Linked DNA regions of Homo sapiens: region 2 is linked to region 1. A link means that fine-mapping ties the variant in region 1 to the expression of a gene that starts in the linked region. Tissue or cell type: subcutaneous fat. Region 1 holds a variant in brackets; the other region holds the start of a gene. All regions are shown on one strand. Distances are from middle to middle.

Region 1 (7,636 bases):
TGGGGGAGAGGGGGCAGAGGTTGCAGTGAGCCAAGATGGCGCCACTGCACTCCAGCCTGGGTGACAAGAGTGAGACCTTGTCTCAAAAAACAAATAAACAAACACACAAACCAAAAAACGAGTGAGGGCTGACATGAAAAAAGTGACTTTTTATTCTAAAGCTTAGCTTAGGGGGAAAAGTACAGGCTTCTGCTTTTAAGGGCACTGCTTTGCTTTTGGGGCAGAAAGCAGGGACTTTTAAAGGGGGGACTTTGCATGCACAGCAGGTGGGGAGGGAGTGAGTAGGTGGGGGACCACTGGACTCACTTCAGTGCCTTATCCACCAGGTGGTCCAGCTGGCACAAAACTAGGTTCTAAGGTGGTCGTTGTCTTGAGACGCTCTCCAGGTGGGAAAGACTTCCGTCGTGGGCGTACTTGAGGTTGGAAATTGACAGTTGTTTCTTGAGGCAATCTCCTGCTGGGAGAGCTTTCTGGCTCTGGAGCTTCTAAGTGAGCACAGAGTCAGATAAGCTTGTCCTATAGGGAGTGTCTGGTGAAGGGAAGGTCAAGGTTATAAGGTTATAATTGCATTTCTAAAGCGCTAAGTAGGAAGTGAGGAACATGAGAAAAGAAGGAGAGAGAAAAGAAAAAAAATAATTAAAACCATTTTCTTTCTCTTAGAAAAATGGGATACTCAGTTACAGCATCATTGCATTAAAGGGACATTGAGTTTTGCAGGTGGGGGAAGTGAAATGGCTTAGAAAGAACATTGGCGGGGGACACAAGGTTCCTGACTCATGTGTTTTTTGCTTTTTTTCTGTTTTGTTTTGAGACGGAGTCTCACTCTGTCAGCCAGGCTGGAGTGCAGTGGCACAATCTTGGCTCACTGTAACCTCTGCCTCCTGGGTTCAAATGATTCCCCTGCCTCAGCCTCCGGAGTAGCTGGGATTACAGGCAGGTGCCACCATGCCTGGCTAAGTTTTGTATTTTTAGTAGAGATGGGGTTTCACCATGTTGGCCATCCTGGTCTCGAACTCCTGACCTGAGGTGATCTGTTCACCTTGGCCTCCCAAAGTACTGGGATTACAGGTGTGAGCCACCGTGCTGGCCTCCTGACTCTATTTTGAAACCATGATCTTCTGGGCTTGTGGAAGGAAAATCAGCCTCCCCTTGAGAGGGTTGGAACCTGGTAGGTTCTCAGAGGGCAGCTGGCATGGGTAAGGTGGGAAGGTTAAGGGTCTGTTCCGTGATGATCCTGGGATATGAGGGTTCAGGCTGCTGATCTGAGTGCAGAAAAAGGCGTGGGAATTGGAAGGTGGGGGTGGAGACAAGGTCAGATGAGGCAGCAGGGTCTGGGGCGGCCTGAGATGTGGGGTTGGGGGACAACAAGTGCCTGGGAGGACTGGGCCTTCAGGCAGATGAGGGAGGCAGGGAGGTAAGCACAACAGGACCTCTCCTCGGAGCCTCTAGGCAGTGAGCCGGCAGTTTATTTCGACAGTATTTGCTTTTGACACTTTTTGAAAACAATTAATTGCTGCATTAATTACAAACTGATTTATCTTATTCAAGTAGTCAATTTTAATAACATCACAACAGTCTTACCTTCCTATCCTGCCAACCAGTCACAGTGATTTCTTGTTTTGTCAGCACAAATGCTATTGAAACTCTGAATTTTAGTGGTAGCTTTGGGTTCTGTTCTCTGTTCCTGAGGGAAGAGAAGCCATCGACAGAGGAAAATTCCCACACTCAGCCTGAAACCTCTTCTATCTGCTAATTGGAGGTTCCTCTTACTGAGCTGGGGCCATGGAGCCTCAGCCCAGCCCCTTGTGGGTGCCTTTTGCAGCAAGCTGAGTCCTAGTTGTTACCCTTGCTCCTTCCTTTGGGAATGGACTCACTTAGGCCTCCTGGGAGGCTGTTCTCAGGGGGCTCTAAGCAGCCTCGGTTACTAAAGTACACTTGCACAGGTGATGTATTGCACCACCTGATGGTTGGAAATGAAGAGAAATGTATAACCACGGCTCTAAAGGGTGACTCGTTTGGGGAGTGGGAGGACACGGTCCAATGGGAAGTTGGGAGACTGTCTAACACCCAGCCAAGGGGGGCATCACCTGTTCCCGGGAGTGTCAGGGTCCTGGCTTATGTGTGTCCCTCTCTGGGAAAGAGGTGGTGGTGACGCTGTGATGAGAGCTGTCTCCACTCGACAGCCCTTCCAGGGGTTTCATGCATCCTGACTTGTTTAGAAAGCTCTGTGGTGAAATAAGGGCCATGCCAGCCCACAGCCCCAAATCCTGAAGGTGGGCTTCACAGTTGTTCAGTTCTGGAGAGCCCTACAGGGGACATCTGAGCTCCAAGCTCCAAGCATGTGGATTTCAGAAGGGAAGGGCAACCCTAACCCCTCCATTACCACTCTCTGGAGTTCCGCTTGGCCATGGGGCTGTCATGATTCCCATTTATAGCTCTGACCGTGTGGGGAGGAAGAAAAGACATTCAATCCTATTATTATAATGATCTCACTTAAAACATATCATCATTCAGTAACTCCATTCTAACACTTCTATTGTCTGGGTGTTTCTGTAACAAGTCCCAAAAAACATAATTTTCAACTCTAGAAACTGTGATCAATGCTATGAAGCAAGAAGACAGGTGCACAGACCCCAGACCTAGCCTGGGTGTCAAGGAAGGCGCTTCTGGGGAGCTGATGTTTGAGCTCAGAGCTGCAAATGAGCAGGAAGTAGGTGACATCAGAAGGACCCAGAGCCAGCTCAGCAGACACGCCTCCCCCAGCTTGGGCAGGTCCCCCCGGGTCGGGTCCCTGCTCTGCGTACAAGATGTGGTCTGAATGAGGTTTGCTGCTGCAGGAGACCTCAGCAATGTGGACATCTGAGGAACAGAGGACCAGGAGGACAGGAGAATCTGTGTATGCGAGCCGTCCCCAGGGTCTGGTCATCAAGAAAGGCTGAGGTTGTATGTTGCTCAGGCGCTGTGTGGTTGTTACTTTGCTTGACAGAGGAAAGTGCCATATATATGTGCACATCTTGTTTAAAGCTATGCTTGGTGCTCTACGGTTAACTTGAAGGTCCCTTCTTTAGCTCTTGAGGAACTCAGCATTACAGCAACACTCAGCCAGTGCAGGACAGGGAGCATTTCCCAATATTCCACAGGCTGCAGGTGGGCATCTGGGCTGCTTTAATGTGTTTAATGTGAAAGAAGTTGAGCAAAGAACAAGTTAAGCAGCAAGAATTAATTCAATCTTCATGACAGCACAGAGTTTCCTTTCTTTTTTTTTTTTTTTCTCGTAACGAGACAGAGTCCTGCTTTGTCACCCAGGCTGGAATGCAATGGCGCGATCTCGGCTCACTACAATCTCCGCCTCCTGGGTTCAAGCAGTTCTCCTGTTTCAGCCTCCTGAGTAGCTGGGATTACAGGTGCACACCGCCATGCCTGGCTACTTTTTTGTATTTTAGTGGAGACAGGGTTTCACCGTGTTGCCCAGGCCAGGCTCGAACTCCTGAGTTCAGGTAACCCACCCACCTTGGCCTCCCAAAGTGCTAGGATTACAGGTGTAGCCACAGCACCCGGCCTTGACAGCAGAGAGTTTCTTTACTGTCACCTGTCTGCTCCCACAGCCCCTGCTGTGGGGTTCCCCCAGCCCGGAGGGTCGGTGCTAGTTTTCACTGGCACGATTACGCAAGTGTGTGAACAACACGGCTCCAGGTTTTGGCCAGATGCATCTTCTGAATAA[A/C]TGTGTAAAATGTTAACTTTGGGAGGAGCTGTTCTTTTCTTTTTTCTTTTCTTTTTTGAGACGGAGTCTCGCTCTGTCACCCAGGCTGGAGTGCAGTGGCGCGATCTCGGCTCACTGCAAGCTCCACCTCCCAGGTTCACGCCATTCTTCTGCCTCAGCCTCCCGAGTAGCTGGGACCACAGGCGCCCGCGACCACGCCCGGCTAACTTTTTGTATTTTTAGTAGAGACGGGGTTTCACCGTGTTAGCCAGGATGGTCTCAATCTCCTGACCTCGTGATCTGCCCATCTCAGCCTTCCAAAGTGCTGGGATTACAGGCGTAAGCCACTGCACATGGCCTTTTCTTCTTCTTTTTGAGAGAGAGTCTCACTCTGTCGCCCAGGCTGGAGTTCAGTGGCACAGTCTCAGCTCACTGCAACCTCTGCCTCCCGGGGTCAAGCGATTCTCCTGCCTCAGCCTCCCAAGTAGCTGGGATTACAGGTCCCTGCCACCATGCCCAGCTAATTTTTCTATTTTTAGTAGAGATGGGGTTTCACCATGTTGGCCAGGCTGGTCTCGAACTCCTGACCTCAAGTGATCCACCCGCCTCAGCCTCCCAAAGTTCTGGAATTACATGCTTGAGCCACTGCACCCAGCCTGAACTTCTGATTAACTGCTTTTGCTCTAAGCTGAGATAGCCAATGGGGCTCTTCATTAATGAGTTTTGAATCTGTTTCTTCTTTATACAGTAACAACCAGCATGTACAATGTCTACGTGGTCTAGCCTTGTCCTTTATTTAACCTTCAGAACAACCCTGCAGTTATGACCCCCATTCTACAGATACGGTACTCGAGGTGTAGAACCCAGAGACTTACAGCTAAATAAGCAGTAAAGCTTGGGTTTCAGAACAATTGTACTCAGCTTCCTGCCTGCTCATTCTTAAACCATGCTGCTGTAGCATGAAAATGAGTGGATACAGGGATTCTAGAGGGGCAAAAGAAATAAAGTTTATGTCTGCACTTTAAGTATAATCAAGTAAACATCACAGCATGGTACAGGCCATCCTGACATGCCCAGCTCTTTGAATAAAGAGACTCTCCCTTTTATTTGTACAGTTGTTGTTTACAAGGCATTCCTATCACCCACTGAGGTAGGGAAGGGCAGAGATTGTGGTCCCCAGTTTATTGACGGAGAGAGAGAGGCTTGGAGAGAGGAACTGATCTGACCAAGGGCACATGGATTTGGATTTTCTGACCTCATCCAATTCTCTTTAAATCATATTGTTTCTAAAATATTAAATACATACAGGTCATCAACATTGGGTATGTTTTTGAAGCCTTTAGTCTGCCACCTACAAACTACAGACATCAGAACATGTCACCTCTTACATCTTTGAGGTTCCTGAATCCTTTTAGGGTAATGGCCACCGCTTGTGACCCAAATGCTTCTGAGGAAGGGAAGGCAGATATGATTTACTAAATATCACTCATTCATTCACTAAATTCAAAATTCCATGAGGGTAGTAGGAACCATGTGTCTCTTTTTATAATTAGATTTCTTTCTTTCTTTCTTTCTCTTTCTTTCTTTCTTTTTCTCTTTCTTTTTCTTTCTTTCTTTTTCTCTTTCTTTTTCTTTCTTTTCTTTCTTTCTCTCTCTCTCTGTCTCTCTGTCTCTCTCTCTCTCTTTCTTTCTTCCTTTCTTCCTTTCTTTCTTTCTTACAGAGTCTCACTCTGTTGCCAGACTGAAGTGCAGTGCACAATCTTGGCTTACTGCAACCTCCACCTCCCAGGTTCAAGTGATTCTTGTGTTTCAGCCTCCTGAGTAGCTGGGACTACAGGTGCCCACCACCACACCTGGCTAATTTTTGTACTTTTAGTAGAGATGAGGTTTCGCCATGTTGGCCAGCCTGGGTTCGAACTCCTGACCGCAAGTGATCTGCCCGCCTCGGCCTCCCAAAGTGCTGGGATTACAGGCATGAGCCACTGTGCCTGGCCAAATTTTACTTTAGAGTATTTTCAGATTTATAGAAAAGTTGCAAAGATTGTATGGAGAGCTCCCATATAGATGCTTCCCCGGCTTCTCCTAAAGTTAACATTTTACACCATGCCTGTTTTAGTCATCAGTGTCTACCCAGAACCTAGACCCAGCCCTTACTATTCATGAGGCATAATCATCAAAACACACGTCAAACTCTATTCTGTTATTTTCCATCTTTTAAAGGAAGAGTGAGGACTCAAACCCAGCTCTCTCGGGCTTCGAAGCTTATTCATTTCTTCTGCTCTATCGTGCTGTATCACATCAGAAAACATTCCGTTTGCGGAAAGCTGAAATCCCACGCTGGCAGCCTTTCGCTTGTTGGCCTGACAGAGTGCCTGCTAGGTTAGGCTGAGGTGTCCTCTGCAACCTGTATTCGTCAATCTTTTGTACCCCCTTGGAGGGGAAGAAACATTTGGGATGGTCTAGCAGAACTGGTGTGAGCATTTGCCTTCCCTTGACAGGGAAGATGGGCAGCCGGCTGGCTCTAGCACAGAGCATGTGTTCATCCTCCATATTTGGTCAGCCTGGCAGTTGTTTCTGAAATCCGATTCCTAATGCCATGGGGATGACCTTTGGTCTGCTTCCCAGCATTCACCTGCAGTCAAGCTGCTCCCAAGGAGCTCGTTCAAAGAGGGGGCGACTTAGGCAGACACTCTGGTCATGATCTAACCATGTTAATTAAGCATGGTTTAATTAACTCTATTGGCATGACCAGTAAGCAGTGGTCTAGAGTGATGGAGCGTTTAAGAGGTAAGTGGAATTTTTTTTTTTTTTTTATGGTGAAATGCTTTAGCTCTTTACAAAGTATATTTTTTAGGACTGGAAAATTGCTGTAACTGTTTAAAGATTGCTTTAAAATAGACTCCAGGCTCTGGAGTGTTCCAGAGCCAACGAAAGACTGTTTGTTTACTCAAGCAATGGCAGCGAGGGAAAGATTTGAAGAAGCAACTGGGCGAGTCCACGTGTCCTGTAAGGCTTGCCAATTGTTTTTCCAGCCTGCGATTTGGAAGTGTAAAGGGTAACTTTAGAAATGCATGCTGTTTTGCAGTGACGCCTGCTGACACACAGGTCCTTTGGAATCCAGTAAGCAATAGAGCTTAAGACTATCTCTAAGACGGGGAACAGGAAGGGGGATTCAAAAGCACAGGGAAATGTGGCAAAAGCGAGAGTTCCCAGGGCTGAGGGTACGTCTTTCGATTTGCAGACATGGCCACCAGACTAAATAAGAATAATCTACTTTTCATACATTCAACAAATATTTATGGACTGCCTCTTCTGTGCCAGGTGCTATTCTGGGCATCAAATCTAGGCTCCTATACCACATTATTCTCAAATGTCCAATTGCTATAATTCCTTGGAGCATAGCAGCAAAATGGCAGAGGCCATAGAGCAACGAATTCCACTGTATGGCGAAGCAGCGTAAGGCAGGGACAAGAGCACAGACTCTGGAGCCAAACCATCCTGGTCCAAATCCTGGCTCCACCACTTCCAAGCTGTGTGATCTTGGGCAAGTGGCTTAACCTCTCTGTGCCCAGTATTCTTAGCTATAACATCGGGCTCTAAGGATTGAATGAGTTTAAATATGTAAAGCACTTAAAAGAGCAGTACTAGACACACAGAAAGTGTTCCTAATAATTAGGTTGCTGCTGTCGTAGCAGAAAGAGAGCTATGTAAATGCTGGGTGTCAGTATTCTTGTGGAAAGAGCACTGGACTTCAAGGTGGGAGACTTGCAGAGGGCAGAAGGCAAGCCTCTCTGTTTCTTATCTGGAAAATGGAAAACATGATTTTACCTGCCTGGTATAGCTCACGGGGATTTTATAAGAATCAAATGGATGTCAAAGAGCTTTGAAAAGTGCAATGTGCCATTCATACAGATAGTTTTGTTGCTTTTAACTCCA
Region 2 (5,612 bases), 66 kb before region 1:
GTGGCTCATGCCTGTAATCCCAGCACTGTGGGAGGCGGAGGCAGGTGGATTACCTGAGGTCAGGAGTTCGAGACCAGCCTGGCCAACATGGCGAAACCCGTCTCTACTAAAAATACAAAAATTAGCTGGGTGTGATGGAGCACACCTGTAATCCCAGCTACTCGGGACGCTGAGGTAGGAGAATTGCTTGAACCTGGGAGGTGGAGGTTGCAGTGAGCCGAGATTGTGCTACTGCACTCCAGCCTGGGCAACAGAGACTCCATCTCAAACCTCAAAAAAAAAAAAAAAAAGGATATATTTGGCTGCATTCTCCCCTATGTTCCCACAGACCCGTCAGAGAGGGCTGGAGGGGACAGTGGTCTGGGTAGTAGTCCTGTGGCTCTATGACCAAGTACCCACATCAGGGAGTACCCCTCTGTCACCAAGCAGACAGACAGCTGCTACCAATACCACTGCCTCTGCTTTCAATTCAAACTAAGGTTATTTTTTAAAGCACCCATGGCCTAGAGTTCAGTGCTCTGGGATCTCTCTCACTCACTCACTCACACACAACACACCCCAGACTGGAGACCAGCAGGTACACTTGCAGGCTTTGCCACCTCCATTGTGTTACACGTGGACCAATAGCAGGGAGCTGAGGAAGGCAAAACAGAATGGGACAGGAAAAGAAACAGGATTTCAGAGGCTAGCTCAGTTCTGTAATTCATCCACTCAACCAATGTATACTAGGGATACGGCAGTAAACACAAGAAAAAGAAACAAGATAACACATGTAACGTTCTCAAACTTGAAGAGGCAACAGAATCAACTGGGGGCTTAACACAGACTGCGGAACCTACCCCCAAATTTTCATGTAAAGCCCTTATTATATGGTAAGTGCATAATAAAAATGGCATTATTGCTATAATGAAACGGTTCCCGAACTGGGAAAGCACTATTACAAATGTGGGAATTGTTTTATGTCAATAATTTGGCGCTTATGTAACACTAATTAAAAGTATCATAAAACACGAAATAACATATAAAATAACAAATTACCTTCATTAAACAGAGTGTTAGCCTCTTCAAGGACCTCTGTTAATTTGTCACCGGCATTCAGTATGTCCTCACGGTTTTCTATTTTTAAAAATACAAACTTTGGGAAATTTGTTCAGCATTCACTAATAAGCAGTTGACAAGGTTATCACCTGCAACAGTAAAGCCAAGCCCCGGCCCCTGCGCTCTGAGTAATTACTTCGAACATCTTTATCTTTTTAACCAAAATGACCCGGAAAAGGAGAAAGGCCACCCTACCCTTTATGCAGCATGAATTTTAAAAGGAAACCCTAGCTCCCTCTAACCTTAACCCAAAGGGCTGGACTCCGGCTGCAGCCTCTGAGTGCTCCATAACTGAGTGGTTCTCAAACTTTGCAAGCAATACACACCATCACCTGGAGGGCCACTCCACAGTTGCGCGGACCCACCCAGAGATTCGAATTCCGCGGGTCCGGGTGGGGTCCGAGAACGTGCATTTGACAGCTCTCGCGTGCCGCTGCAGCTGCAGCTGCCGCTGCGAGGCCGGGAGCCCACGCCGAGGACTGCCGGGCGCAATCAAAGCACGCGGAGTCCGCGTCCTGCCTCTCCCCACTGGCTGGCTGGGCTCGGGCGAGTCCGCGAACGGCTCTGGCCTCCAGCTTTTCCAGCCCGCCACTCGGGGACCCGCGCCAAGGTCGTACGGCTCCAGCCACAAAGTGGGAGCACTTTGTCAACAATTTAAGGTGCGGCGAGGGGCTGGCACCCGGCGCGTCTCTACTAACGCCGCGCCGGGCCTCCGCCCGGCACCTGCCTCCGGTGCCCTCCCCCCGCGCCCGGCGCAGGGCGGGGACAGCGGCCCGTCCGGGCCCGCGCCGCCCGGAGGCGCCGCCTTACGTTGGACGGAGTTGATGAGCGCCCGGTACTGATGGCGGATCTGGCGGCACAGGCCTTGGTCGGCCTCCGCCTCCAAGCTGGCCGGGTCCATCATCTCGTCCCCGGAATCCGACGGCTCTGTGTCCTCCAGGCTCGGGCGCTCTGGGGCCTCTCTGCGCTCCCGCGCAGAGCCGCGGCGGGACCTGGGCGACAAAGGGGACCGCGAGCGGGAGCGGGAGCGGGTGCGATCCCGATGCGGGTCGCGGCCCCGGCCCCGGCCCTCTGGCCCGCGGCCGCTGCTGTCCCCAGACATAGCGCCAATTCACCGTGCAACTTCGGAACGGCGGAAGTTCGCGCCAGAAACTGAAACCCCTGCTCTGCGCCAGCGCCTGCTCCCGGCGGAACGCGGCTCCCGGGCCCGCGCGAGCGCACAGCGACGCCTGTGGCTGGAGGCCGGCGACGGGCCCGGCCGGGTCTCCAAGGCGCCTGGGGGGACCGCTGGGTGCACAAGAGGGGCCTGGCGGGGATCCTTTGTTCCCTTGACAAGAGGTGTAATGAGCTCTTACTCCACACTGCAGGGCTGTGAGAATCTTGGTTTTCTGCCCCTACTTTCCCACCCTCCTGGACCTGCATCTTCCCTAGGTCCCTTTGCCTGCCCAGGACACAGCCGCAGCCTGGCACCCACATGGGCACGCAGTCCATGTGTGTTGAACGAGCTTCCTGCTGTGGAGCAGGATGAGCGCGGGATGTGGAGTCCAGACGCGGTCTGCTGCTCACCTGCGACCTCAGTTTCCCTGTGCCATCATGGCTGGGGTCGGGGGGGTGGGGAACAGGGGTGGGTGGATGAATCAAATATTTATGTGCAGCTGGCAATACCATTTTTTGTGAGGATAGCAGAACAAATTAACAGGTAAACATCCTTCTAAATATCTACAACAGAATGTCACCAGAGCACCAGGGTTTTGTTCTAGGACCCGCTGCCCCCTCACAGAAATCACTGAGAAAACCATTATTACCAAGGAAGAAGGCTTTAGTAGGGTGCTGCACTCAGGGAGTTGGAAGCTCAGTCTCAAATCCATTGCCCTGACCAACTAAAATTAAGGGTTTATACAGTTGCAGGGAAGCAATGTAACAATGTATGGGAAAAGAGGAACTCGGGAGGGGGAAGGAAGCTATGGGGATGCATGAGGGGCTTGGCATCTCATTGTCTGGAATGCGGTGATATGGCGAGTTTCAGTTTTTTGATACTTTTTGAGAGGCTCTGGAGGTCCTTTCCTGAGGAAGGAACTCAGATAAAACAAAGGTAAGTTTCAACCTTAAGACTAGAAATGATAATTTCTAAGTTTATTAAAAAAATAGTAAACAGTCTATGGGATTGTTGGGTTGATTTTAATGACAGTCTATGTTCACATTTGATTTTTTTTTTTTTTTTAAGACCTTGCTCTGCCGAGGCTGGAGTACAGTGGCACTATCTTGGCTCACTGCAACCCCATCTCCTGACCTCAAGTGATCCGCCCACCTCGGCCTCCCTAAGTACTGGGATTACAAGCATGGGCCACCAGGCACAGCCTGATTCTGATTCTCAAACTAGAAGATTCTAAGAATACCTCCTGAAGGGCCCAAGAAAGATGGAATTATGTTAAGTATACTTTGAAAGATAAATGTATGAATTTCACTCCGTGCATTTTGGATTGTATTCGAGTATTGTTTCCCAAAAGTTGTCTTTGGTGCTAAGAACACATTTTCTCAAAAGACCAATATTATAAGTTGGGTTATTACACAACCTACAAATATTCCATTTTGTGCATCATGTCTACTAAACTTAAGTTAGGCACTGTTCATTGCTGTCCAACAGCTACTACCTCACCCATCCCTGCTTATCTGTATTTCCTGAAGGGGACGTGTGTGCCTACTTCCTTAGATGAAACGTGATCACTCTAACCAGGTCACGGTAATGTCATTCCCCTTCCCCAGTGACTGGTCAAGGGTCATGTGATGCAACCTGGGTCCGTGAGATGTGAAAGGGTTTCCCAACTGGATGGAATACAAACCTTCCTGAAAAGAAAACCCTTGACCCCCTACCCCCTTTGAGATGGCTGGCATAAGAAATGGGGAACCTGCCAATTAGCGGGCATAATGGTGCGTGTCTGTAATCCCAGCTAATCGGGAGGCTGAGGCAAGAGAACTGCTTGAAGCTGGGAGGTGGAGGTTGCAGTGAGCAGAGATCGCGCCATTGCACTCCAGCCTGGGTGACAAGAATGAAACAACGTCTGAAAGAAAAAATGTGGAGCCTGCCATATTGGCAGCATCTGGTACTCACGAGGTGACAAGCATGAGGAAAGACTAGAGTGCTGGAGACACTGGAGAGCAAAGATGGACATGGCTGAATTGCTGAATCAACCACATGCCTCCAGACTCCCTGTAAAGTAAGCCATAAATCATGGTTTAAACCAGGTCATTGTTTCATAGTTGTTGCTTGTAGCTCAGTGTTCTGTAATGGAATACTTAGCGTTCTTCCAGGTGAAAGTGTGTCCAGAATTGGTGGGTTCTTGGTCTCACTGACTTCAGGAATGAAGCCGCGGACCCTCGCAGTGAGTGTTACAGTTCTTAAAGGTGATGTGTCCGGAGTTTTTTCCTTATGATGTTCAGATGTGTTCGCAGTTTCTTCTTTCTGGTGGGTTCGTGGTCTCACTCGCTCAGGAGTGAAGCTGCAGACCTTCACGGTGAGTGTTACAGCTCTTAATGCGGCGTGTCTGGAGTTGTTCGTTCCTCCCGGTGGGTTTGTGGTATTGCTGGCCTCAGAAATGAAGCTGCAGACCTTCACAGTGAGTGTTACAACTCATAAAAGCAGTGCAGACCCAAAGCGTGAACAGCAGCAAGATTTATTGCAAAGAGCGAAAAAATAAAGCTTCCACAGTGTGCAAAGTGAGCTGAGTGGGTTACTACTACTGGCTAGGGCAGCCTGCTTTTATTCTCTTATCTGGCCCCACCCACATCCTGCTGATTGGTCAATTTTACAGAGAGCCGATGGGTCTGTTTTACAGAGAGCTGATTGGTCCATTTTGACAGGGTGCTGATTGGTGCGTTTACAATCCCTGAGCTAGACACAAAAGTTCTCCACCTGTCCACTAGATTAGCTAGATACAGAGTGCTGATTGGTGTATTTACAAACCCTGAGCTAGACACAGAGTGCTGATTGGTGCATTTACAAACCTTGAGCTAGATACAGAGTGCCGATTGGTGTATTTACAATCCCTTAGCTAGACATAAACGTTCGCCAAGTCCCCACCAAATCAGCTAGACACAGAGCGCAGATTGGTGCATTTACAAACCTTGAGCTAGACACAGAGTGCTGATTGGTGCATTTACAAAGCTTGAGCTAGATACAGAGTGCTGATTGGTGTATTCACAATCTCTTAGCTAGACATAAAGGTTCTCCAAGTCCCCGCTAGACTCAGGAGCCCAGCTGGCTTCACCCAGTGGATCCCGCACCAGGGTGGCTGGTGGAGCTGCCTGCCAGTCCCTCGCCCTGCACCCCACTTCTCAGCCTTTGGGCAGTTGATGGGATCGGGCACCCTGGAGCAGGGGGCGGCGCTCATCGGGGAGGCTCGGGCCACGCTGGAGCCCACGGTGGCAGGGGGAGGCTCAGGCATGGCGGGTTGCAGGTCCTGAGTCCTGCCCTGCGGGGAGGCAGCTAAGGCCCGCCGAGAAATGGAGCACAGCGC

What was found. PIP is the estimated chance that this variant, and not a neighbour inherited with it, causes the effect.
Region 2: it holds the start of NSMCE4A, and the variant in region 1 is fine-mapped to the expression of NSMCE4A in subcutaneous fat (GTEx, PIP 0.97).

Annotation. Positions count from the first base shown.
Region 1 is chr10:122,038,186-122,045,821 of GRCh38, forward strand. All of the region lies in intron 2 of TACC2 (transforming acidic coiled-coil containing protein 2), which reads left to right. Among named protein-coding and RNA genes, the nearest start is that of TACC2, 53 kb to the left of the region's middle. The variant A/C (reference allele first, on the strand shown) is at 3,722.
Region 2 is chr10:121,972,966-121,978,577 of GRCh38, forward strand. It overlaps NSMCE4A (NSE4A component of SMC5/6 complex), which reads right to left and starts at 2,252. Exons shown (of 11, transcript NM_017615.3): 1 at 1,909-2,252; 2 at 1,039-1,116. The coding sequence starts at 2,200. It overlaps LOC124902517 (a long non-coding RNA gene), which reads left to right and starts at 1,902. Exons shown (of 2, transcript XR_007062322.1): 1 at 1,902-3,190; 2 at 3,323-4,812. RefSeq lists a silencer at 1,654-2,453 and an enhancer at 1,891-2,686.